7 linked regions of the Homo sapiens genome follow. The protein of the gene in region 1 purifies or fractionates together with the protein of each later gene. This does not show direct contact. Each region holds a gene or a part of one and is shown in the gene's direction. Other genes may lie near its edges.

Region 1 (4,284 bases):
TATTTATTTCTTTTGGCCATTTTCTCTATTGGGTTATTGGTTATTCTCAACTTTTAGGAGCTCTTTAGGTATTTGGAAAACTAGCCCTTGCCTGTGATATGTTGCAAGCCTTTTTCTTTCCTTATTTTTTTTTGACAAGCAATACATTTTATTTTCATGTAGCCAGATTTATTATTTTTATGGGTTTTAGATTTTGAGTCATATGGTTAGATAATGTTTCCCTATTCCCACGTGTTAGAATTATTATTCATGTTTTCTTCTAATACATGTATAGGTGGATTTTTTATATTTAGATCTCAGATCCATTTAGAATTTATCTCTATTGTGATGTGTGGTGGGAAATACAAATCCAGTTTTACCTTTGCCAAACGGTTATCATCCCAGCACAACTTCTAAGTTCTTCATTTCCCTGTTGATATGTGGTGTCACCTTCATCATTTACTCAATATCCTTACATACCTGGATCCATTTCTGGTCTATTCTTTCTCTCTGTTAATACACTAAAATTATATGGGTATGTTCCAGTATCTGATAAGGTTGACCCTCACCATTTTTCTTTTTCATGGGTTTCCTGGCTATTCTTATTTCCCCACATGAATTTTATAATCAGTTTATCTAATTCCAGAACAATATTTGTTGATATTTTTGTTGGAATACTACAGTTGCATACGTATTTAGGGAGGACTGACCTCTTTGAGTCTTTCCAAGAACCTCATATCGCTTTCTGTTTGTTTAAATGTATACTTGGCCTTTTAGGAATGTTTTAAAGCTTTCCCCATAGAAGTTTTGTTCATTTCTTGTTAAGTTTATTCCTAGTTTCACTTTTTTGCTGCTCTTGTAAATATGGTCTTCTCTTCCATTATATCTCGTAACTCGTTATCATTGATTATTCACATATATGAAGGTCGTTGATTTTAGTGTGTTAACTTTATATCTTGCTATTTTACTAAATTATCCTTTTTTTATAGTTTTTCCATTGAACCGGGTTTTCTGACATATAATCATACATCAGCACATAAAAGAGAACATCAAAAGAATCGTGGATGGCGAAAGAGCCGGCAGAAACCAGCCGGCTGGCCCTTGAGAAGTCTGTGTGGAAGAAGTCCCTTCGCCACCGCTAAGCGCGGATTTGGGAAGGTCCCCCGGAGAACATCCCTTTGAGGCATCTCTAACCTCAGAGACACAGAATCCCAAAGTGAATGGAGACGCAAGGGATTTCCCTGTCTTAAGATCAGTTCTACAAGCCTCGACCACCCATCGGGTCGGGGGAAGTGTGGACAATGGCTGGGTAAAGAAGAGGAGAAGATAAACCCGTTCCATTTACCAGCGGGCCTGAAAGCCATCAACCTTCCTCTCACGTAGACGCGCGGAAACACTACCGAGTTGAAAGCCCCTTTCGCTCCCTTCCTAGAGCGGCCGCGGAAGTGCGCCCCGCGCGGGCTGGTTCTTAGACCCCCCGTGGCCGCTTCCGGCCTTTGTGGGTCACTTTTGATGGGTTCCGGGTCCCAAAAGGGTTCGAGGCCTCTTGCCTTCGCTCCGTAGGAGGGAGTTCTCTTCTGGCCCTGGGGGCCGCAGGTGAGCGATGTTGTGCTCTGTACGCTGCGAGCAGGTGGGCGGGAGATTGCTGTATTCCAGCTGCTGGGCCCCTCAGGCCCTGGCCGGTGCAGAGTGGACCCCGGTCCTCCCAAACCCAGGCGGATCCGCGGGAAGCTCTCCCTCCCCAAAGTGCGTTGGGACATTAGGATGAGGGTTTGGCTCCCAGTCTCTGCAGCAATTCCAGGCTGTAAGGCCCATACCTTCCGCGTTTGCTTCGGGCTGTGTATCCTTGGGTTCAGCGCTTACCGACATTTCTGGACAGTGGTGGGTCACAGACGCTCGCCGGCGTCCTAGGGACCCTTTCCTGGGCCTTCCTCACTTCAGATTATAATCACAGACCACGAGGTTAGAGGGAAGCCTTAAAGAGTAACCTCTTCAGCCTTCTCACTTTATAAATGAAGAATGAGGAGCAGAAAGATTAAGTCCCTGAAGAAATAAATTTACATGACTGTAGCTTTTGTGATTTCATGGTTTCCACCAGACATCTGGACATTCAAAAGATAAAAGTAACTAATCAAGGATGTCCTAACCTTTTGTTATTATTATTTACTTGATCTAAATGTTAGTTTTATTCCATTTGTCTTTCATTTAGGACCAAATGAGAATAAGTTTACCAACAAGTCTTACTCTTAAGTCCTGAAACAACTTGGCACCTTTCCTCAGTCTTTCTCTTTAAATTAGTCTAATCTTTTTTTTTTTTTTTGAGACGGAGTCTCGCTCTGTCGCCCAGGCTGGAGTGCAGTGGCGCGATCTCGGCTCACTGCAAGCTCCGCCTCCCGGGTTCACGCCATTCCCCTGCCTCAGCCTCCTGAGTAGCTGGGACTACAGGCGCCCGCCGTCACGCCCGGCTAATTTTTTTTTTTTTTTTTTTTTTGTATTTTTAGTAGAGACGGGGTTTCACCATGTTAGCCAGGATGGTCTCGATCTCCTGACCTCGTGATCCGCCCGACTCGGCCTCCCAAAGTGCTGGGATTACAGGCGTGAGCCACTGTGCCCGGCCTAAATCGGTCTAATCTTAAGTCTTTTCTATCAGAGTATTTTTCTGAGTAAGTATTGTACATTAATCCGGAGGTCAGATTTCAAAGGTCATAGTTAAGTTCTCAGAATTTGCAGTTTTACTTTATGGTGGAGTTTGTATTAATAATGATGGCTTATTCTTCAGGACTGTCCAGGAATACAGTTTCCAGGTGAGATCTTACTTGAAACACCGGTAGTTCTAGCACAGCTAAAATGGCATCTACTTGGGCTATCCAGGCCCACATGGACCAGGATGAACCTTTGGAAGTAAAGATAGAGGAAGAGAAATATACCACCAGACAGGATTGGGACCTGCGTAAAAACAACACCCATAGCAGAGAGGTCTTCCGTCAGTACTTCAGACAGTTCTGCTACCAGGAGACATCTGGTCCCCGTGAGGCTTTGAGCCGACTCCGAGAACTTTGCCATCAGTGGCTGAGGCCAGAGACCCACACCAAAGAACAGATTCTGGAGCTGCTGGTGCTGGAGCAGTTCCTGACCATCCTACCTGAGGAGCTCCAGGCCTGGGTGCAGGAGCAGCATCCAGAGAGTGGGGAGGAGGTGGTGACTGTGCTGGAGGATTTAGAGAGAGAACTGGATGAACCAGGAGAGCAGGTGAGAAAAAAGATGTGACTTCTGCTTGAGAAAACATAAATTGTGGATTTCTAGGCCAGAGTGAAGAACAGCCATTTTTTCACAAAGCATGTTTTTGACAGTTTGGTGCATCAGAAAGGGGCATGAGTTTCACGGAAAGTTGGCTAATGTGGTCCCAACTTATTTATAACTTTTCTGTGGAAGGATTTTATATTTCTCTATTAAGCTACAAAATTCTGTTTGATAAACATGCTGCTCATCTTAGAAAACTTCTAAGACAAGAGAAAGTATCAAAGAGATGACAGTAGCAGGATGGGAAGCAGTCTCTTGGAGGGGCATCACTCTGTTGCACAATACAAATAATTAAGAATTAAGGTTTTGCAGATATATCCATTGCTCTGACTCCATTACAGGGTTTTAAAATGAAGACATTAACTATTTCAGGGGAATGAGATGTGGGAGTACAATGGAAAGTTAGTGAGGAGAGCAGGGTGGGGAATCTGTGTTTCTTTGAGTAGCAGAAAGCCCAGTTAGGTTGGAAAGGTGAATTCCAAATAGCAGAGTTGAGATAGTGTCCAGGACCTTGAATCTCAACCTCTGGAATTGAGATTTTATTCTGTAGGACAGATGCCCCTAACCTTTTCTCCTTGAGTCTAAATGAGCTTTACTAATTGTAAGATGTAAAAGAGAACCAAATTATGTAGAACGTTTTTGTTTTGTTTTTAATACTAAAATGAGACAGTGGTTCTCAACCAGTGCCAATTTTGTGCACCAGAGGGCATTTGGCAATGTCTTGGGACATTTTTGGTTGTTATAACTTGGGGAGGTGCTGCTAGTATCTAGTGGATCACTCGGGGAGGTGCTGCTAGTATCTAGTGGGTAGAGAGGGCAAGGCTAATGCTAAACCTCTTAAAACACACAGGACAGCCCCAGACAACAAAGTCAGTAGAGCCAATGCTAGGAACATGTCAGTAGAGCCAATGCTGGGAAACCCCGGTATAAAGAGTTTGAAACTTAGGGAAATAATGAAACAGAAGTATAATCTAGCACTGTGATACAAAATGCAATAGAGAGGGT
Region 2 (3,500 bases), about 55 Mb from region 1:
TTTTGTATTTTTAGTAGAGATGGGCTTTCACCATGTTGGCCAGGCTGGTCTCCAACTCCTGACCTCAAGTCATCCACCCTCCTCGACCTCCCAAAGTGCTGGGATTACAGGCGTGAGCCACCGCGCCCAGCCAAGTTCATGCCTTTTTAAAGCAAGCAGTACATGAGATTCCTCAAAACAATTATGACAAAATATTAATACTAGGCAAAATGAAGACAATTGTTGAAAAATATTGATAACTTAATCTTCTTCTTCCTTGCCAATTCTACTCCTGCCAATGAGTTTGTTTCCTATGTGATTCTCCACATAACTATTTTATTTTATTTTATTTATTTATTATTATTATTATTTTTATTTTTTTTTTTTTTGAGCTGGAATCTTGCTTTGTCGCCCAGGCTGGAGTGCAGTGGTGTGATCTAGGCTCACTGCAACCTCTGCCTCCTGAGTTCAAGCGATTCTCCTGCCTCAGCCTCTCAAGTAGCTGGGCTTACAGGCACCCACCACCACTCCCCAGCCACTTTTTATATTTTTAGTAGAAATGGGGTTTCACCATGTTGGCCAGGCTGGTCTCAAACTCCTGACTTCAAGTGATCTGCCCCACTCGGCCTCCCAAAGTGCTGGGATTGCAGGCATGAGCCACTGTGCCTAGCCCACATAACTCTTTACAATATAGAAATATATATGATTTTCCCAGTTTTTATTTTGGAAATGTGTCGATTCCTAAACCCCAACCTAAAATATCATTATTTTCAATACTTAAATATTAGCCCATCATTTTTTATCTTCAGATGTCTATAATTGGAAGCCTATATAGAAATGGTTGATGAGCCTATCGGTTGAACCACTGCAGAGAATAGAGTGATGGTCTTAGGGCATCCTGTACTTTGCATGCTCCTCCTGGAAGTAAAGAGTAAGACAGAGAATAGTAATAATCACCCATTCCAGAACTGGTTGCACAACATCACAAAAGCTTGTCCAGACTTATTAGCAAGTTAATAAAAAACTAGACTTCTTTCTAAGTACTTATAATTTAGGCTGTGGGGTAGTTCTGTTATGATACATTTGTTTTAAAATATTCTGCTTCTTTTTAAAGTGAGTTGTATGTGTCTTTGTTGTAGGGACGTGCAATTTTTGCCAGTGGCAGTCCTTTTGATCCAGTCACTCTTCCAAATGGACAGACCCTATATCCTGGCCAAGGCAACAATTCCTATGTGTTCCCTGGAGTTGCTCTTGGTGTTGTGGCGTGTGGATTGAGGCAGATCACAGATAATATTTTCCTCACTACTGCTGAGGTATTGTAAAATCCTCTAAGTTTACCAAGGGTTTAAAATACCAAGTGTGCTCAGCCTAGGTTGTCTAATGTTTTATTTATCTAGCATCTCAGCTTACTCTCTGAAAGAAGTAAAGTCTGAAGAACTTCCCAGTGGAGTATAAGGGGTGGGTAGCATGTTCATACTGACTCACAAACGAAAGGTTCTTCTTCAGTAGTCATTAGAAAAATTGTGTTTTTGATTTCTTAAGAGGAACATTTTTGTGTCTTCACACATCAGATCAAGTTCTGTGACAGTGATGGGACAATTAAAAATATTGTTTCCAGGGCTGGGTGTGGTGGCTCATGCCCCTAATCCCAGCACTTTGGGAGGCTGAGGCAGGCAGATCACTTGAGCCCAGGAGTTCGAGGCCAGCTTGGCCAACATGGTGAAACTTCATCTCTACTAAAAATACAAACATTAGCCGGGCATGGTGGTGTGTGCCTGTGATCCCCCCTGACTCAAGAGGCTGAGGCAGGAGAATTGCTTGAATCCAGGAGGCAGAGGTTGCAGTGAGCTGCGATTGCACTACTGCACTGCATCCTGGGCTACAGAGCTAGATTGTTACCTAAAAAAAAGCAAAAACAAAATTGTTTCCAAATGATGATTAAGTGGTAAATATTTCCCTGTTGAGAACAGTGCTTAATAATGAATGGCATTTTGAAGGTTTAAAGTGAAAGTCTGATATGGTATAGTGGACATGTTTATTATTCAGGGTTCAGTACAGGAGACAGAAACCACCCTAGTATTTAAGCAGAAATTAGATCAAAATAGGAAATTAGTTGTTTATAAAATCATTAAAAGAATAGGAGAAGTGAGCTCTGTCTGGGCCTTGAGGAAAGATTCTCAGAACATCACAAAGCAGGCCCACTGGGGAATCTTGTACTGTCATGAAACTGTGAAAGATCTGAGATTTTACTCTACTTGCAAGCTAACAAGTTAGCCACAATTTCATAGATATTGACAGAAGACATGAAACTCTTAGGTCAGAGACAAAGGACTTTGATAATTCCTGGCACAAGAGATATCATGAGCTGCATGTTCCTATCAGTTTCCCTCCTCCTCCCAAGCCTCAGCAGGATGATACGGTGATTGGGCATATATTTATAAAATCATGAGCTTTTTGATAATCATCAGGTTGATGTTCATCAGGTTGATATCATGTTTCAGATTTGAACAGGTAACCATTTATGGATGAGAAACTTGAGTGAATTTCTTTTCTTACGATTAAACCTTTGCAGCTGAACTGATCCAAAGAACTTGATTGATATTCAAATATTTTTATCCTGCAAATATTTTTTCCATTGTGAAGAGGAACCCCAAGAATGTAGACAAAGATTCTTATGTTACTGATGTGATCTAAAGGAGCATAATCTTGGTGGCTAGCACCCGGTGTCATTCTATGAGAACAGATGCTTGGAAGCAATAATGTTCTCCTGTCGTTTTCTTCACTGCATTAAAAAGCATGCCAGCTGATGTCACAGGTTTTCTTTAACTCAGAAAATCTTGTTAAACATAAATGGATGTCTAATTACTAAGAGAGCATGTAAAAGTAGCTTTTGCATTAAGGAAAATGTAATCATTGTCTTTTAGAATAGGCACATCAGAGTTTTGGTTACCTGCAGTAGTCAGTGTTTTCTTTCTTAAATAACTCTAGCACCCTCTAGTGACAAATTCCGTGAAAAATATTTTCAGTTTACTCTCCAAGAAAAGTAATAATCACTACCAAAAAACACTTTGAAGGAAAAAAAAAATGTGGTGTTGTCAACATACCACATCACTAATTCTTATCATAGCTAGTGATCTCTCTGGCTGCATCTCTTGGCCTTTCTACTGGTTTTCTCTTAGGCTTCAACACAATATTCCTGTTTTTTATATCATCTAAATTATGTCCCACTCATTATTTTCCTTGTCTCCTTTTCATCTCCCTTTTAAGTAAGAGTTTTTTTTCTAGCATTCATTTTTTGTTACCAGTTTTTTCTTCTCTTTTTCTTATGCTTTCAAAGATCTCATTCATTCATTCATTTCTATTATCTTCATTCTAGTAGTGGCCAAATCTGTGTATCTCTATTCTCATCTTTTTCCATATCTCCAGTTGCCTGTTGGGTAATTCCACAGACATGCCCTACTGTGTCCTTAAACACAACATTATGAAAGCCTTCCTTATCTTTCCTCACTGTCAGCATTCAC
Region 3 (3,500 bases), on another chromosome or scaffold:
GCCAGGAGAATTGCTTGACACCAGTAGTTCCAGACCAGCCTGGGCAACATAGCAAGACCCTGTCTCTATACAAATAGATACATCTCTATCAAAATAAATAAATAAATAAAATTTTATGGGGATGAGGTGGGGGGAAATTAAATAAAATATTTCTTAAAAGGCTCTTTAGGAGAATAATAATGAAAAAAAAAACGGTTGAGAAACCCTGATATAATATGCAACTGGGATTTGGGGGCAGATAATGTTTCATACATTTTCCTATAGAACCACAAGACTGTGATCACACACGTTGACAAAAATTCCGTCAAAGCACCTGGAATGCTTCTTTAAAGCACAGCTTCTTCTCCGGGGCTGGGACAAGTGCAGCTCCAATACCCTCTGTCCCAGCAAGAAAGACTTCAGGTGCTGGAGGGAGGCAGGTGACGGTGCCCTTCATTTGTGCAGGAAGGACGAAGACCAAGTGTTTTATGACCCACTTAAAAAAATTAAGTTCAGTGCACAAATAAGACCCCATTTGCAAGAGCACACCAGTGATAAAAGGTCCTGCCGCCTGGGTAGGAAAAAGAAAGACCGACCAGAGTAGGGGAGAGTGACAGTTTAGGTTTAGCTGGTTTAAGTTTAGCTGGTTTAGGTTTATCTGGTTTAAGTTTATCTGGTTTGTGTTTAGCTGGTTTAGGTTTATCTGGTTTAAGTTTATCTGGTTTGTGTTTAGCTGGTTTAGGTTTAGCTGGTTTAGGTTTATCTGGTTTAAGTTTATCTGGTTTGTGTTTAGCTGGTTTAGGTTTAGCTGGTTTAGGTTTATCTGGTTTGTGTTTGGCTGGTTTAGGTTTAGCTGGTTTCGGTTTAGGTGGTTTGTGTTTAGCTGGTTTAGATTTAGCTGGTTTAAGTTTAGCTGGTTTAGGTTTACCTGGCTTAGGTTTTTCTGGTTTAGGTTTAGCTGATTTGTGTTTAGTTGGTTTAGGTTTAGCTGGCTTAGCGGTTACTGGTTTAGTTTAGCTGTTTCACATTTATCTGGTTTGTGTTTAGCTGGTTTGTGTTTAGCTGGTTTAGGTTTAGCTGCTTTGTGTTTAGCTGGCTTAGGTTCAGCTGGTTTGTAGGGTCAGTGGGCAGCAGGTTGCACGAGGCTCTGCCCTTGACCACCCAGTGAACTCAGTTCCAGGAAGAGGCCGACTCAGTCAGCCAGACCCTGGCGAAGCTCAACTCCAACTTGGATGCCAAGTACAGCCCTGCACCTGGGGGCCCCCCTGGCGCCCCCACAGAGCTGCTGCAACAGCTGGAGGTGAGACAACCCCACCAGGCCGTCTGCACCCCACTTCTGGGAATTGGTCCTGTCCATTTTTCTGGGCCTCACCCCTTCTGCCTTGGTACCTAGTCCTATCCCAAGCCCTGGCCTGGGTGCTGGCAGGGGGGTTTACTCTAGCAGGAGGCTGGCCAGGTACCAGCAAGCTCCTCCCACTTCTGGACGTCAGTTTCCTCATTTGCAGTGGGACAAGGGCAGCCTGGGAGAGCTCTGAGGCCTGTCTAGCTTCTGCTTGGTGGCCTGGGTGATGCTGTGCCATCCCCCTCCCTGCAACTAGCAGATCCCAGGATCCTAGGTCCCCCAGAGAGGGGCTCCTTTTACTTTGCTGACTTAGAGACCCCTGCCTTCATGAAGGCCAGCCTCTAGGCCTTTTGAAGGACAGGTATGGTGTGGCCAGCCTCCAATGCAGCCTGGCCTGAGTCCCCCACTGCCTGGGCCCCCGGCAGGCAGAGGAAAAACGGCTGGCCGTCACCGAGAGGGCCACTGGGGACCTGCAGCGGCGAAGCCGGGATGTGGCCCCTCTGCCACAGCGAAGAAACCCCCCTCAGCAGCCCCTGCACGTGGACAGCATCTGCGACTGGGACTCAGGAGAAGTGCGAACTCCCCCACCTCACCCCTGCCACCATCCAGCCCCGCCCAACCCATCCCCTGCCCCTGCCCAAGCCCATCCCTGCTCCATCCCCAGCTGTCTCCTGCGCCCACTTTTGCCCTACTCCTTCCCTTGACTCAGACCCTCCTCTCTCCAAGTCCTGTCCTGCCTCTTTTCTACCCCAGCACCTCCCACCCTACTCTTGTCCCTGTTCCAGCTGCTGTCCCCATTTGTCTCTGTCCCCAGCCCCTACTCTGCCCTGGCCTTGGCCCCCTGCCCCTGAGCCCTCAGGAGCTGCTCCCTTTCTGTGCCCCCAGGTGCAGCTGCTGCAGGGTGAGCGGTATAAGCTGGTAGATAACACTGACCCGCACGCCTGGGTCGTGCAGGGCCCTGGCGGGGAGACCAAGCGTGCTCCCGCCGCCTGCTTCTGCATCCCAGCACCAGACCCTGATGCTGTGGCCAGGGCCTCCCGGTAGGTCTGTGTAGGGATACTCAGGGGCAGGCTGTGGGCAGAGCAGGCCGGCCCTGCGGTGTCCAAGCCCATGGCCCAACAGACCCCTGCTCAAAGGCTGGCCTTCACCTGAAGCTGCGTCTACTGGGGCTGGGGAGGGAGAGAGGCAGAGTGGGGACCTCTTTCTTCAATCTCCTCTTCATTCTAGGCTGGCCTCAGAGCTGCAGGCCCTGAAGCAGAAATTGGCCACAGTCCAGAGCCGCCTGAAGGCCAGTGCTGTGGAGTCTCTTCGGCCCAGCCAGCAGGGTACCCAGGGTGGCCCGGGGAGAGGTGGCTGTGGGGCTAGAAGGAGTAGATTCCGACTTCCGACTGGTCTGTGATGGGCAGGGGTCGCCTTGGGTTAGGGACCATCACTCTGGGGATTTCATCTCTGGGGTGGCCCTGCCCATCCCCTCCACCCTACCCCGACAGGACCCTCTGTGGGCACCTGGTGGGGGCACCTATCTGGCAGTCTGGAGATAGGCCCTGGGCCCTCACCAGCACCTCTGCCCCCAGCTCCATCTGGCTCAGACCTGGCCAACCCACAGGCCCAGAAGCTCCTGACACAGATGACCCGGCTGGATGGAGACCTGGGACAGATAGAGAGGCAGGTGCTGGCCTGGGCGCGGGCCCCGCTGAGCCGCCCCACACCCTTGGAGGACTTGGAGGGCCGCATCCACAGCCATGAGGTGGGTGAGCAGCGGGAAGGGGCGGCTGGGATGAGAAGCGGCCCGGCCCTGGTGCTCACACTTGAGGGAGGTGAGGCAAGTGCAGGAGCGGTGGCTGGGATGGAGATGGAGAAGGGTGTGGACAGACCCGGGCTCAGACAAGCTGGTTCCCCTCCTGGCTCCTCCACTGACCAGCTCCAGGATCTTGGACTACATAACTCTCTGGGCCTTGGTTTCCTCATCCCTGAAGCAGATGTAATAATGCCCAGCTCGCCTGATCATTCAGGAAGGTTCCAGTAGGGCCCAATGTCAACACCCCAGGAGGTATTCTGGTGAAGCTCCTGAAATAGCAAGGAAGCCTGGAGAATCTTAGGAAGAGATGTCCCCTGGCTGCAAGGGGGAGCCTACCTGGGGAGGTTGCAGCATTGTGTAAACTCCTTACCCAAGAACAGC
Region 4 (3,500 bases), on another chromosome or scaffold:
CTTTAGTAGCTGTTCAATACTTGTTAAATAAATGAAGGAATGAATGAATGAATGTAAGCTCTGAGAAAAGGTTATGCCTAGAGGTATCAATTTTGAAGTCATCAGATAGATGGTATCTGAAGTGATGGGATCCAATGACATTGCCTCAGAAAGGAGTGTAGATTTTTTTTAAAAAGAAGGTCTAAGACACAGCCACAGATATTTCCAACCTTTTGAGATTGAGTAGAAGAGAGGTTAGTAAAGAATACTGAGAGACAACAGCATTCAATGGGTAAGAGGAATATCAGAAGAATATGGTGTCATGAGATCCAAGAAAAAAAGACTCCATTAAGAAAGGAATGGTTAATTCTATTTCACATACCAAGAGATTAAGTAAGATGATGATGATGAGGTAATGATGGAGAAATGACACTGTATTCAACAACTTGGAGATCACAGATGATTTGACACAAAGCAGTTTCAGTAGAGTTTGGTGATAGAAAATTGAGAGAAGCAGGTTAAAAAGAAAGTGGGTGGTAAACATTTTAAGAGAGAAAGCAGAGAAAACTTCTCCAAGACTCCTGTGAAATGAAGCAGTTAATTAGGCTAGTAAGATGTTAGGAGAAATGTTGGGGGAGGGTGGAATAATGGTTCGAGGGAAGGGTTTTAAGATGGAAGATACTCCAGCATGTTTCTGTGGTGATAAAAATAAACTACTAGAGAAGGAAACAGAGTGAAGTAGGGAAAACTGACTAATTTTAGGGATATTTTGAAAGTAGGATCAATAAAACATGTTGATGGAATAGATATTGGATGTAAGAAAAGGAGAATCAACTAATTTTCAGGTTTACGACTTGAGCCATCAGGAAGACAGGAATAACTGATGAGGATAACGGGTGTGCGACATTTTTAGGGTAAAGCAGTTGAAAATCAAGACTTCTGTTTTGAACATAATAGATTTAAGATCTCTACAAGACTCAAGTAGAAATACTGGATAGGCATTTAGACATACACATCTCAAGTTTAGGGGACAGTCAGTGACTGGGGGTATAAACTTGTGAGTTGCCAACTTATTTAAAAAGTTATATAGAACTAGATGAGATGACCCGAGGGAGTATAATAAAGAAAAGAAGCTAAGGAGTGAATCATAGGGCATAGCAACATTAGGAGCTGAACGAGGAGGCTAAGAAAAAAGTGGCCATTGAGGTTGGAGGAGAAACTTGAGAGTGCCAGGTCTCTGAAGAAGGATGAAGCCAGTTGCATCAAATGCTGCTGATATGTCAAGTAATATGTAAAATAAAAATGGATATGTGGATTTGGAAATATGAAGGATATTTTTTACTTGGTGAGAGTTTTAATACATTTTTTAGAAAGAAAAATACCTTGAGTAAAGGAAAACAAGAATGAGGAAGTAAAGACAGAATGTATAGGCATATCTTTTGAGGAATTTTGCTATAAAAGGGAACAGATAAATCAGATGGTACCTAAAGGCAGATGTGAGATTGAGGGTGGGGTGGAGATGGGAAGGTAAGTGTTAGATAGATATTTCAGCATGAATATATATTGAAGGGAATGATCCAGTAGACAAAGAAGAATTAATGATGCATATGAGAAAGTAGGCAACTGCAAAAGCAAAGTGTTTGGGTAGGCAAGAGAGAGTGGGGCTCAGTGCCAAAGTAAAGGACAGGAGGAGCACAGACTGTTTATTACCCTAAATAAAGTGAAGGCAAGGTATATGGATAGAAATGTAGTAGGTTGGGAGATCAGATATTAGGAGAATGAGGAAACTCTTTTCCAATGGCTTCCAAGTTCTCAGGAATCAAAATCAAGGACATCAGAGATAAAGGAAAGAAGAAGTTGTTGAAGCTTTGGCCAGTGGGTATAAGAAAAAGTAGGACAAGTGGATGTATCCAAGGGGCATTTGGGGAGATTAAACATAATGTCTAACCAAGGTAAAAAGGGAAGTGAGTACATAAAGCAGTAAATAGAGAGGTTAAAGAATTATTGACATCAGCGTACAAGAGAAGGTCAAAGAGTGAGATCCTTCAGAAAGAGATTTTGCATATGTTGCAAGTAACGATAAGTTCAGAGAATACAATATCATCATAAATAAGACTGGCTGAAAATAATCATAAACTTTAAAATGCATTTGTAAGAAGCATATACCTGTAATTTTTTAAATTCAATCTTTACAATCTATATTTTAACTGGCAAGATATGGTCTATTTTACATGTATTGTAATTAGTAATAATAAAATTATTTGTAATTCTATTAATTTATTTTATGCTTTCTGTTTACCCTTCTTTTTCTATGCTTCTTATTTTCTTCTTTCCTGGCTTCTGTTGAATTATTAAAGTTTCTTAATTCCCCTTTTTCATCTCTAATGGTTTAGAAATTATAAATTCTATTATTTTAGTAAATACCCATAAACTTACCCAAATACATATATCACTTAACCACAGCAAAATTCATTAATATCTAATTCCTCTTACCAAACAAACCAAGGTCCAAAAATGTTTTAGTTGTGACTGCTACAGTAATCTCCTTCACATTGTTTTCTACAGTATTTTAGTTTCACCTGGTTTTGTAAGTCCTAATAAAGTTATAATTCTTTATATAATACACACTTAGATTTATTGACATGCTTACTAATTTCTTCACCAATGAGATAAACTGAACATTCCTTAAATGGCAAAATGAAACCCAGTCAGAAAAACCTTTCTCTTTAAATATTGAAGAGCTATTAAATCCATCCTATACAATGAAATATTATAAACTTCATGAAATGTTTAAAAAACAAATAAAAAATTGAATGAACTTTCATTGAGTATCTTGTCATATGGCTAACTGGCTTTCAGAGAATTGTGTCTTAGCAAATTAATCATTTATTAAGTTAGCTTTTGGGGAAGTAATTTTCAGTAAATTTGTATAAGTAAATTTTACTGCTTAAAACCAGTCAGCCTTTCTAAATTCTTGTTGCTAGCAATGGCAAGATCAGCAAGAGGGATGATCTTACCTAGAGCACACTGAGGTCTGTGAGACTACTAAGTCCAGCTGTAAGTGGGCACAAGGCCAAAAAATGGGCAATTTTATTTAAGTCAGGAAAACTCTATTCATTTGTTTTATGTAGATGGTAGAGAAAAGTTTCTCATGTCCATCTTCCATTCTTAAAGATGGATTACTTAGAGGAAAATGTAGGTTTAAAATGTGGAAAATGATTGTAATAATATAACCTAGAAAAAAAGATGTATAAAAAAGTGCATTTTCATTTCTTCTTTCTAGGTTCACATTTATTGCCAAAAGATGTCTACTCTCCTGGAAAACATCTTTGCCATAATTAATCTTTTCAAGCAATATTCAAAAAAAGATAAAAACACTGACACATTGAGTAAAAAAGAGCTGAAGGAACTTCTGGAAAAGGAATTTCGGCAAATCCTGAAGGTAAGAGTCTCTGACAAGACCAAAGATAGAGCATTTGTTTTTCTCATCAATAATCTAAGCAAGGGTTATTTTGAGCTCT
Region 5 (3,500 bases), on another chromosome or scaffold:
ACCAGCCTGGTGAAACCGTGTCTCTACTAAAAATACAAAAATTAGCCAAGCATGGTGGTGGATGCCTGCAATCCCAGCTACTTGGGAGGCTGAGGCAGGAGAATTGCATGAACCCAGGAGACGGAGGTTGCAGTGAGCAAAGAACACACCATTACACTCCAGCCTGAGTGACAGAGTGAGACTCTGTCTCAAAAAAAAAAAAAAAAATTAGTTGAGTGTGGTGATGCATACCTGTAGTCCCAGCTAGTCGGAAGGCTGAAGCAGGTGTATCGCTTGAGCCCAGGAGTTCAAGGCTGCAGAGCGAGACCCTGTCTATTTTTTTTATTTTTTATAGACAGAGCTTTCCTCTTGTTGCCCAGGCTGGAGTGCAATGGTGCGATCTCGGCTCACTGCAACCTCTGCCTCCTGGGTTCAAGTGATTCTCTTGCCTCAGACTCCCGAGTAGCTGGGATTACAAGTATGCACCACCATGCCTGGCTTTTTTTTTTTTTTTTTTTTTTGTATTTTTAGTAGAGACGGGGTTTCACCATGTTAGCCAGGCTGGTCTTGAACTCCTGACCTCAGGTCATCCACCTGCCTTGGCCTCCCAATGTGCTGGGATTACAGGCATGACCCTGTCTCTATTAAAAAAAAAAAAAAAAAAAGCCATACTGGGAAGCCACATGTTCTATATAGTTATTCCACATGTTCTCTCTACTTTTTGTCTTCTAAACTTTCTCTATCCTTCTACTGTGCTGCTCACGTTTCCCAACTCTATCACGGCATACACGTCCTGAAGAGCTAGACTTTACAAAGAAAGATAAGTACAAAAGTGAAAGAATGGGTTGGATGTCATAGCTGGGGCATATTTGCTGATGACCCAAATTATGTTGTTTCCCTTCCTTTCCAGGCTGACCTGATCCCCAAGTTATACCTTTCCCTTCCCCAGGTTTCCCTTGGCTTCTCCCCCTCCCAGCAGCTTCCAGGAGCAGAAGTGGAGCTGCAGCTGCAGGCAGCTCCCGGATCCCTGTGTGCGCTCCGGGCGGTGGATGAGAGTGTCTTACTGCTTAGGCCAGACAGAGAGCTGAGCAACCGCTCTGTGAGTAACTGTCTGCTGACAGAGTGGGAGGAGGGAGTTGATGGAGAAGACAATTAAGAGGTAGGTTTCAGGCAGGGGAGAGAAAGTCTTAGGGAAATAATGCACTGCCATAAGGCGGTAAAAAGGCTGGTGTGAAAATGAAGTTAGAAAGTGTAAGAGGGCTGGGCACGGTGGCTCACGCCTGTAATCCCAGTGCTTTGTGAGGCCGAGGCTGGCAGATCACCTGAGGTCGGGAGTTCGAGACCAGCCTGACCAACATGGAGAAACTCTGTCTCTACTAAAAATCCAGAAAAAAAAAAAAAAAATTAACTGGGCATGGGCCCATGCCTGTAATCCTGGGGAGGCTGAGGCAGGAGAATCACTTGAACCTGGGAGGCGGAGGTTGTATCATTGCCCTCCAGCCTGGGCAACAAGAGCAAAACTCTGTCTCAAAAACAAAAAAAAAAAAACAAAAACAAAAAAAGAAAGGATAAGAGAAAGGCATGGTTAGTATGAATGCAGAGACAAGAAAAGAGAATGAGCCTGTAATCCCAGAACTTTAGGAGACCAAGGCAGGCAGATCACCTGAGGTCTGGGGTTCAAGACCAGCCTGACCAACATGGTGAAACCCTGTCTCTACTAAAAATACAAAAATTAGCCAGGCATGGTGGCGCATGCCTGTAATCCCAACTACTCAGGAGGCTGAGGCAGGAGAATTGCGTGAACCCGGGAGGCAGAGGTTGCAGTGAGCCGAGATCGTCCCACTGCACTTCAATCTGGGCGACAGAGCAAGACTCCGTCTCAAAAAAAAAACAAGAAAGAGAACGAAATAGGGGATAGGATTATGAAAAAATAGGTGAGATAGAGGTTAAAGTTTTAGACAGTGAGAAAGGTAATTATGACAGAATGAATATAAAAATAATTCTGAAGTAATAAAGAGAAATGATACAGGAGTAGTGAACTGAGCACCAGAATCTGAGAGAAGTTTCTCAACTGATATCACTATATCAATGCTTTATTTCCTCTCCCCCTCTTGTCCCAGGTCTATGGGATGTTTCCATTCTGGTATGGTCACTACCCCTATCAAGTGGCTGAGTATGATCAGTGTCCAGTGTCTGGCCCATGGGACTTTCCTCAGCCCCTCATTGACCCAATGCCCCAAGGGCATTCGAGCCAGCGTTCCATTATCTGGAGGCCCTCGTTCTCTGAAGGCACGGACCTTTTCAGCTTTTTCCGGGTAGGTCTTCTTACCCATTTTGTTCTTATGGGAAAGATGGTGGTGGGAATGGGCAAAGGAAAGTTCATATCTAAGAAAGCAGAGAGACTCATATGGGCACTGATGGGAACAAAATCTTGAAAGAAGCTTCTGACGTGTAAGGTCGCCTCTGTTGGCCCTTATGCTTGAAGAAGATGTCCAACCTAGTCTTCCTCTTTTTGTTGTCCTCAAACACTGATTTCCATGAGATCAATCAGGAGGGAAAATTAGAGAAGGTAGACCAGAGGTCTCTTATCATTATTATAAAAAATAATTTGCACCTATTCTATGAGCAGGATTTGGGATGCTGTGTGACCCAAGTCTGACCAGGAGGTCCCTGAGGTCAGGAACTAGGTCTTGTTCATCTTTGTATTCTCTCTAATGCCTGACCCTTCATAAGGCTCATTGTATTTTTGTTGAATTGAGTACGCTGATATGGTCCCTACCCTCAGCATGTTTACAGCGTAAGTCAAATAGTAAGGACATAGCGAATAATATTTGGCAGAACCATTACATGTATGTAATGATGAAATAAGTTTAACTGAAAGCCTTTCATGCTAGCTGGAACAGAAGCCAACCAGCCTCAGTGGCTGAGTTTCAGGTAAGAACACCCAGGTTCACCATTAATTCAAAAAGAATGTTTTGTTTCAACTCTTTGATGGTGGAATTCCTGGGCAGTAGCCCTTGTAGTTGGGGAAGGGACCACCTTAATACTTATTTCTCTGATGCCTATCAGGACGTGGGCCTGAAAATACTGTCCAATGCCAAAATCAAGAAGCCAGTAGATTGCAGTCACAGATCTCCAGAATACAGCACTGCTATGGGTGGTAAGCCACCTCTGTGGTCTGTGGATTCTCTGAGATGTTAACAGTCCTGGAACTCTGCAGATTTCCTCTTGCCTCCTGTTCTTGCACTGAGCCTCTAGCCCGAGAATGCTAATGGGTTGTGGGTCACAGATGCAGGACAGTTTCCCAAGTGTTCTCTCTCTGGGGAGAGCTTTTGAAGCCTGAAGCTTATGTATCCATTCCCCGGCCAAACCTCCTTGGCTATCACTTCCCTCGATGGCCTTTGTGACTAGTTAGTTCCTCTTTGGTCCTTCCTCCTTGCCTCTGACTGGATGTTCTCTGCTTCCCTCTAAATTTCTTTCTAGTAATCCCTCCATCCCAATTTATGTCACAACAAGAAGTC
Region 6 (3,500 bases), on another chromosome or scaffold:
AGAACAAAGCATGTGATTTTTGAGTGATTTTTCTTGACTGTCAACATACCGATAACTGATCAGTTGTTGATATTTATTAGATGATCATTGCCAAGTTTGAAGTGACTGAAGAGTTAGCCTCTGAATCATCTGTATAAAACAACTACAGGCGAGGATGTTTTCGAAGAAGCTGAGAAAATAATGATTGAGTATAACCTGGAATGGAATCTGCTAAGATCTATAAAAATTGACAGTAGTAAAAATATTTGTGAGTAGAAAAAGGCGGAGTTGAGCAAATTCACAAAACTTGTGAACATGCGAGGTGTTTAAAGCTCATGGTTATTTATTATAGTATTCCTTTTCAGATATTTTGTGGAAAATATTGGAATCTCACATGTGTTATTGAACCGGCAATATAAACCATGAGCTTCATTTGCTCTTGTGGATATAACCGTCATCATTTCTGTGAATTATCAGAAATAGAGGCCGGATATCCTGATGTCTCTTGTGACAGAGCCATTAGATAGCTTGCTAGCTGTAAAGTTTTGCAGTCTTTGAGTTCACAGTTGAGACTGAAGTTTTTCTAAACGAGCTGCCCCCAGCCACTATTACTGAACACGAATGGCTTTGGAAATTAGCTTTTGCTACAGACTTGATATTGTTTCTTAATGAATTCAACGCAAAATTACCAGACAAAGCCAGACATATGTGAGAAACTTACAGTGTGGTAAGGCAAATTTGACAGCTAATGTTTGAATCACAGGTAATGTCAACCTACTTTATATATTCCCCATGTTATCAAAAGTTAAAACAAGGTGCTAGACCTCCATTCTTACACAGCTGTCCAGCAGATACATTTTCTGTGCTCAAGCTACAGTTCCAGGAGTTTTCTGAGCTCAAGCTACAGTTCCAGGAGTTTTCTGAGCTCAAGCTACAGTTCCAAGAGTTTTCTGAGCTCAAGCTACAGTTCCAAGAGTTTTCTTACCTACTCTACTTTATCTTATTTTGGATTTGTACTTTTTTAAAACAATTATTTTACTTTCACAGAACTGGTTCTCCAGAGGAAAGGAGATAAAGACACTTGATATGTTGAATGAGTAACAAAAGAATCATAAATCTGTGTGGACTTTTTTTGATAAGTTTAGGAGAAGGTTCCATTTTGCCACTAAGCTTGGACAACTTCCCCTAAAAGAGTCTGTTCATTCCTTGTCTCAGGCAGTGACGTCAGTGTTGGGGGCCGTCCTCACCTCAAGGAGCGCAGAGTCTGGTATTGACAAGGAACGCAAACAGATGATTATAAAGCAGTGTCATAAACATGTTGATGAGAGTGTGCACAAATGCTGTGGGAGGAAAGGAGGGTATGAATATTTTCATATGGAAGATAGATGAAGACTTCACAAGAAAGAAAATGCTTGAACTGAATCTTGGAAGTTAGAACCAGCAGTTCACCAGGTGGGGAAAAGGCATTCTAGCAAGAGGGAATAGCACAGACACAGGCATGGAAGGGTGAGAGATGATAGGAAGTGCCTGCGTATGGCTATAAATACTAAGGGGAGTGTCAGGAGATGAGGCTGGGATGGTAAGTTACCATGGAAAGATGATGAAGGGCCCTGTGCTGTGTGCCCTGAAAATCTGGTTTGGGAGGCAAATCCCAGGACAGGTTGCAACACACATGGCTGGTAAGTGCAGATAATACATCCTATCAGGTCATTTACTTTTAGTGCTAAGTCAGCCTCTCTAACATAAATATTTTCCATCTACTTTGTTACATTTGTTCGTTACTCAATATATTTGAAATATTAGAGCCAAATTATAACACCTAGCACTTTTACAAATTGAATTGAAACTGAAAATCCACTTAATGGTTTAGGATTTTAGAAGTTTTCTTGGAAAGAAAAGACTTATTTTAAGAGGCATTGAAACGTATAAAAGAGCAATATCAGACTTGATGTTGTCTTCACAGATTAACTACTTTTGAAATTGCTTATTCCGTTGGCAAGCATTTGTTATTTTCTGAAACTTAATTTTCTTTGCTTTTCAGTGGACAGAGGACTGCAGAAAATCAACCTATCCTCCTTCAGGACCAACGTGAGTAAACATCAGATGATCAAAACTCCCTTTGACCTTTGTGAAGTTTTTTCTGTATGTAATAATTGCTCATAAACGAACGATAGTGAATAAAATCTTAAGTCATGTTTCCCATTCCGAGACAGAGGTTTGTTTCTCAGATTTGTTTATTATGCATTTGGCTGAGATCTTGGACAAATATGAAAATATCTTCCGATTCAAATGCCCGTCGCTAGACTATCAAAATCATCGGAAAGAAAAGGATTTTCAGCCAGACGCGGTGGCTCACGCCTGTAATCCCAGCACTTTGGGAGGCCGAGGCGGGTAAATCATAAGGTCAGGAGATCGAGACCATGCTGGCTAACAGTGAAACCCCGTCTCTACTAAAAATACAAAAAATTAGCCAGGCGTGGTGGCGGGCGCCTGTAGTCCCAGCTACTCTGGAGGCTGAGGCAGGAGAATGGCGTGAACCCGGGAGGCGGAGCTTGCAGTGAGCCGAGATCGCACCACTGCACTCCAGTCTGGGCGACAGAGTGAGACTCTGTCTCAAAAAAAAAAAGGAAAGGATTTTCATTCTCCACTCAATTCTCCTGTCTACCATGAAGGGTTTTTCTCATCTTTGACAAATGTAAGGGCTGTATTTGAAATGACCTGTGATTCTCTATGGTGCCTGGATATAAACCACCAAATTATATTGTAACAAAAAAGCATAGGCCCTCATATGTGAAACGTTCTCAAAATAAACCTTGGCACAACAAAGCTGTCGAGGACAAAACAGGATTGGAACACCTAAGAGGAGGACCAATGTCATGATTCAGTGTGTTTAACATTAATATTTTTAGTCTAGATTTTGGTCTTTCCAAATCCTCAGTGTTTAAATGGGCCTGTGAGAAAGCCATAATAACAGCTCACAGACCCCTCAGAGTGTACAGAACAGAGAAAAGAAGGAACAGGTATAGGGGGTGGTGATCTTTTTCTCCTACACTGCCCTTTCGCTGAAAGTAGCCTGCTGTTTGTAGGGGGAAACAGTACAACTCTATCTAGTGATATCAAGATGACATTTTCAGTTCGTGCAACATTCCAAATTACTTACGTTGTACTGTTGTTGTCTAAACGATGTATTTTAAATAGCCTCTGTCCCAGATAGCGTGAAACTGTAATAAACTAAGTTCTTTTGACTTACTCGCCTTTATGTAGAAAGAGGCCAGTATTTGGCAGGAAGCAATTTAGAGGTAACCAGTTTGGATGTTGTTTGGGGCCAGTGTTCATTCCAGCTCTTTCTTCAATGGCCTGCTGTCTGAAAGTCTTCCTTTCTGTCATCACTGGCATCATTCTGGCCTTCAGTGACATGTCTGCCTTACTGATTGATTATGTCTCTCTGTTGGTCTCACTGCCCCAATTCATTGAACATTTAATGAGGTGCCTTCCATGTTTGAGGCCGTTTCTACTCCCTT
Region 7 (4,207 bases), on another chromosome or scaffold:
TATAATTCTTAAACTGCTTGTGCTTAGTCCAATGCTGGGTACATACAGAACCGCTGATAAGCTGGAGCTGTAATTATTATTATTATTATTATTATTATTACCACCATCGCTATTATCATCATTAACGAGTCAGAGATGGAATAACAGGGAAGTAGGAGCTGAGGAGGACAGATGGGGATAGTGTTTACAAGGTAAGAAGTGTTGGATGTTATAAGCTGGGGTGCGGATATTGGGGTGGAGAGAAGAGAGAGACTGACTGAGAGACATTGAGAAAGGCTGATGGAAACTGGCCCCTCCTAACTGGGCGATGAACCCCAGTGATACGAAACAGTGGGAGGCCCTGTGGCCCCTGGGAATAGAGAAGCAGCCACACTTGCTGGGCAGGGGTGAGGCGGGGGGAGGCTCCCAGGTTCTGTATCCCGAGCTGGGACTGGGGAGAGGGCCGTGGCTCTCACGGATGGCTCCTGACCTTGCGCTACCCTCTTCTCGCTTGCCATTGCTGCCCTGGCCCCTGGCCTGGGGGATGGGTGGGGTGAGCTGGCCCAGTCCCGCCCCTCATAGGCGCTTATACTCACACGTGCCCCTCTAGGGCTGCGTAAACAGGATGGGTGCCTGGGTCAGCGGCTCCCTCCCTTGGCCTTCCCTCCCACTCGTTCCCTGGGGGTGGCTGGCGCGCCTGGCTGCCCTGCTCCGCGCCCAGCTTTCTCAGCCGGGAGCAGCCTGAACGCTGAGACACCCTGCTGACCACTCAAAGGGCTATGGCCACCTCCTTCCCCGACACCGAGGGTCCCCCCGGGGGCTCTCCCCAGAATCTCAGAAACTGACACGCAGCCCCGTGTTTGCCAGTCTCTCTCTGTGGGCTGGAAGGTGTGGAGGAACAAGAAGGCAGTCACCTGTAGGTGGCAATGCGGGAGGGGAGAGGGAGAGGAGAGGCTGAGGTGCTGAAACCGAGAAAGGCCAGGCCGAGGACGGGCAATGCCTGTCACTCTGGAGCCCCTGAGCCAGGCTGGCTGAGCCTGGGTGGGTCCTGTCCCCTGGGGCTTCCCTGTCCTTACTCCTTTGGTGGGGTCCTGCCAGTAACTCCTCTCTTCTAAGTCTGCCCCCACCCCACCGCCTCCAGGAGCCAACGACAACCTGTCTCCTTAGATGCCCCTGCCCCCACCCAGCTCCCCGAATGCCTGGGGTTGGGAAATGGGAGCACTTTTGCATCACCTCATCCATTTCTCCCTCCCTCCCTGATGCGGCTCACTCTCTGTTTCGACAGAGACTCTCAGACTCACAATAACAGCTGATTACCCTATTGGTGGCTGGGCCCTGAGTCACTGCGGGGAGGGACCTCAGGTTGCCCAGCCCTGTCACCTTCTCCCAACCTAGAGTATAAGGAGTAGTGACAGGGAGGTGGACTCTGAGAAGCCCAGGCAGTTGAGGACAGGAGAGAGAAGGCTGCAGACCCAGAGGGAGGGAGGACAGGGAGTCGGAAGGAGGAGGACAGAGGAGGGCACAGAGACGCAGAGCAAGGGCGGCAAGGAGGAGACCCTGGTGGGAGGAAGACACTCTGGAGAGAGAGGGGGCTGGGCAGAGATGAAGTTCCAGGGGCCCCTGGCCTGCCTCCTGCTGGCCCTCTGCCTGGGCAGTGGGGAGGCTGGCCCCCTGCAGAGCGGAGAGGAAAGCACTGGGACAAATATTGGGGAGGCCCTTGGACATGGCCTGGGAGACGCCCTGAGCGAAGGGGTGGGAAAGGCCATTGGCAAAGAGGCCGGAGGGGCAGCTGGCTCTAAAGTCAGTGAGGCCCTTGGCCAAGGGACCAGAGAAGCAGTTGGCACTGGAGTCAGGCAGGTTCCAGGCTTTGGCGTAGCAGATGCTTTGGGCAACAGGGTCGGGGAAGCAGCCCATGCTCTGGGAAACACTGGGCACGAGATTGGCAGACAGGCAGAAGATGTCATTCGACACGGAGCAGATGCTGTCCGCGGCTCCTGGCAGGGGGTGCCTGGCCACAATGGTGCTTGGGTGAGTGGCTGTGGGGCTGCATGTGGAAATGGGAGGCTGTGGGCTGCTGGGCTGAGATTCTTGGGAAACGGTTGAAAGGATGGATGGATCTCTTACTTGCAGGCTTCTGGGGCAGCTTCCTTCTATGTTCTGCCCCCCTCCTATGCCACCCTGGAGTCCCTCTGCCTGTCTCTCTCCTGGTCTCTTTATGATTTGCCCTGGCTCTTCTCTACCAGGGTCAGAGATGGTCCCACTAAGTGCAGGTATGTTGTTCTTGCAGGAAACTTCTGGAGGCCATGGCATCTTTGGCTCTCAAGGTGGCCTTGGAGGCCAGGGCCAGGGCAATCCTGGAGGTCTGGGGACTCCGTGGGTCCACGGATACCCCGGAAACTCAGCAGGCAGCTTTGGAATGAATCCTCAGGGAGCTCCCTGGGGTCAAGGAGGCAATGGAGGGCCACCAAACTTTGGGACCAACACTCAGGTAAAGTCACCCCCAGACCTGCTACCTGCCACCTCCCTCCCTCCAAGCCCACATGCTCCGCGTGCCTCCCTGGTCCCTCTGGATCCTACTCTCAGTCTCACCCTCTCTGCAGGGAGCTGTGGCCCAGCCTGGCTATGGTTCAGTGAGAGCCAGCAACCAGAATGAAGGGGTAAGAGGAAGGGGCTGGGAACAAATGAAGAAGCCACTGGGTGCAGGCTACAGAGAGCTGGGGAAAGACAAAGAGGAAAGCAAGATGGGGGAGTGGAGGGATTGGGGTGAGAGGAAGAGATGGGGCTGGGCGAGGTGGCTCACACCTGTAATCCCAGCACTTTGGGAGGCCAAGGCACGTGGATCACCTGAGGTCAGGAGTTCAAGACCAGCCTGGTCAACATGGTGAAACCCTGTCTTCACTAAAAATACAAAAATCAGCCGGTCATAGTGGCATGCGCCTGTAATTGCAGCCACTTGGGAGGCGGAGGCAGGAGAATCACTTGAACCTGGGAGATGGAGGTTGCAGTGAGCCGAGATCGCATCACTGCACTCCAGCCTGAGCAACAGAGTGAGACCCTGTCTCAAAAAAAAAAAAAAAAAAAAAAGGAGGAAGAGACGGGCCTGGGCCTGGGGAGGAGGCAGATGGGAAGGGGAGGTGGGAGAAACACATTAGGAGAAAGGAAGCCAAGCCCCAAAGAATGGGAGAGGCCTGGCCTGTGTCCATGGCCGAGGCCAACGTCTCCAAACTCACCGTCCCCAAACTCACCATCCCTTTCCCTCGACAGTGCACGAATCCCCCACCATCTGGCTCAGGTGGAGGCTCCAGCAACTCTGGGGTGAGTGGAGAGGGGCAACCCAGGAGTTGTGCACCAGGAGGAAATGGAGAAGTTCTGCTCCCCTTAGACTGGGCATCATGGAATATGGCCTGGGTGGAGAGGGAGGGAGGAGGGGCCCGTCTTGGTGCTCTGTCTTTAATCCCAGCCCTGCTCCCTTCCTGCCCCTCAGGGAGGCAGCGGCTCACAGTCGGGCAGCAGTGGCAGTGGCAGCAATGGTGACAACAACAATGGCAGCAGCAGTGGTGGCAGCAGCAGTGGCAGCAGCAGTGGCGGCAGCAGTGGCGGCAGCAGTGGTGGCAGCAGTGGCAACAGTGGTGGCAGCAGAGGTGACAGCGGCAGTGAGTCCTCCTGGGTGAGTTTGGCACCTCTGTGGAAGGCTGAGATGGGGTGAGGCCCTAGTGGTCCCTGCCGGGAGAGGGCTCCAAGTTTCTCTGAAAGCTGCCGCTGCCCGAGGATGGGCGGCCTCGCTGATAGTCGTCACCCTGAGGCTCCCTCAGCCTCCTGTTCCCCACCCATGCTGTGCCCCTGATGCGCGCACTATCGTTTCTGCCAGAGCCACCCCACTGCTTCTGACTCTGTATCCCTATTTTCCACTCTGTGATGGTGGGGACGTTATCCCGCCTGTCTAAGCTCTTGCAGTCAAGTCCACTTGGCAAGTCTCAGGAGACCGTGGGGTGGCGGAGAAAGAGGGGGACATGGGAGAATATGACACTTGTCTGGGAAGCTCCCAGGAGAATGGGGGCAGGACTGTGATCCGGGAGACCTACGGACGCTGACAGAGCGACGGTGCAGACGACATTCACACATGGGGCCCCTGCACGATGGGTGTGAGGGCAGGAAGGGGCGCTGTGACCCCGCAGCTGCCACCCCAGGGCCCCGGGCCTCACTGACTCCAGAGCCGGCAGTCTCTCCA

What was found.
Region 2: the proteins of ZSCAN12 (region 1) and ME1 purify together in Homo sapiens (affinity purification with mass spectrometry; one large-scale study listed by BioGRID and IntAct). This does not show direct contact.
Region 3: the proteins of ZSCAN12 (region 1) and EVPL purify together in Homo sapiens (affinity purification with mass spectrometry; 2 studies listed by BioGRID and IntAct, with this or other methods). This does not show direct contact.
Region 4: the proteins of ZSCAN12 (region 1) and FLG purify together in Homo sapiens (affinity purification with mass spectrometry; 2 studies listed by BioGRID and IntAct, with this or other methods). This does not show direct contact.
Region 5: the proteins of ZSCAN12 (region 1) and A2ML1 purify together in Homo sapiens (affinity purification with mass spectrometry; 2 studies listed by BioGRID and IntAct, with this or other methods). This does not show direct contact.
Region 6: the proteins of ZSCAN12 (region 1) and ASAH1 purify together in Homo sapiens (affinity purification with mass spectrometry; one large-scale study listed by BioGRID and IntAct). This does not show direct contact.
Region 7: the proteins of ZSCAN12 (region 1) and DMKN purify together in Homo sapiens (affinity purification with mass spectrometry; 2 studies listed by BioGRID and IntAct, with this or other methods). This does not show direct contact.

What each region holds. Positions count from the first base shown.
Region 1 is NC_000006.12:28,396,948-28,401,231, reverse strand, and holds the start of ZSCAN12 (zinc finger and SCAN domain-containing protein 12), read left to right. Parts: upstream 1-1,484; 5' UTR 1,485-1,575; intron 1,576-2,465; exon of another isoform or gene 2,466-2,642; intron 2,643-2,758; 5' UTR 2,759-2,826; coding exon 2,827-3,228; intron 3,229-4,284. UniProt on the Homo sapiens protein: May be involved in transcriptional regulation.
Region 2 is NC_000006.12:83,221,552-83,225,051, reverse strand, and holds part of ME1 (NADP-dependent malic enzyme), read left to right. Parts: intron 1-1,118; coding exon 1,119-1,292; intron 1,293-3,500. UniProt on the Homo sapiens protein: Catalyzes the oxidative decarboxylation of (S)-malate in the presence of NADP(+) and divalent metal ions, and decarboxylation of oxaloacetate.
Region 3 is NC_000017.11:76,017,307-76,020,806, reverse strand, and holds part of EVPL (envoplakin), read left to right. Parts: intron 1-1,153; coding exon 1,154-1,279; intron 1,280-1,746; coding exon 1,747-1,893; intron 1,894-2,206; coding exon 2,207-2,361; intron 2,362-2,548; coding exon 2,549-2,646; coding exon of another isoform or gene 2,647-2,712; intron 2,713-2,895; coding exon 2,896-3,068; intron 3,069-3,500. UniProt on the Homo sapiens protein: Component of the cornified envelope of keratinocytes. May link the cornified envelope to desmosomes and intermediate filaments.
Region 4 is NC_000001.11:152,315,240-152,318,739, reverse strand, and holds part of FLG (filaggrin), read left to right. Parts: intron 1-3,262; 5' UTR 3,263-3,283; coding exon 3,284-3,421; intron 3,422-3,500.
Region 5 is NC_000012.12:8,846,621-8,850,120, forward strand, and holds part of A2ML1 (alpha-2-macroglobulin-like protein 1 isoform 1 precursor), read left to right. Parts: intron 1-889; coding exon of another isoform or gene 890-928; coding exon 929-1,078; intron 1,079-2,099; coding exon 2,100-2,294; intron 2,295-3,048; coding exon 3,049-3,139; intron 3,140-3,500. UniProt on the Homo sapiens protein: Is able to inhibit all four classes of proteinases by a unique 'trapping' mechanism. This protein has a peptide stretch, called the 'bait region' which contains specific cleavage sites for different proteinases.
Region 6 is NC_000008.11:18,074,108-18,077,607, reverse strand, and holds part of ASAH1 (acid ceramidase isoform a preproprotein), read left to right. Parts: intron 1-2,020; coding exon 2,021-2,067; intron 2,068-3,500. UniProt on the Homo sapiens protein: Lysosomal ceramidase that hydrolyzes sphingolipid ceramides into sphingosine and free fatty acids at acidic pH.
Region 7 is NC_000019.10:35,510,850-35,515,056, reverse strand, and holds the start of DMKN (dermokine isoform 2 precursor), read left to right. Parts: upstream 1-1,407; 5' UTR 1,408-1,581; coding exon 1,582-2,007; intron 2,008-2,266; coding exon 2,267-2,467; intron 2,468-2,579; coding exon 2,580-2,636; intron 2,637-3,243; coding exon 3,244-3,294; intron 3,295-3,463; coding exon 3,464-3,646; intron 3,647-4,207. UniProt on the Homo sapiens protein: May act as a soluble regulator of keratinocyte differentiation.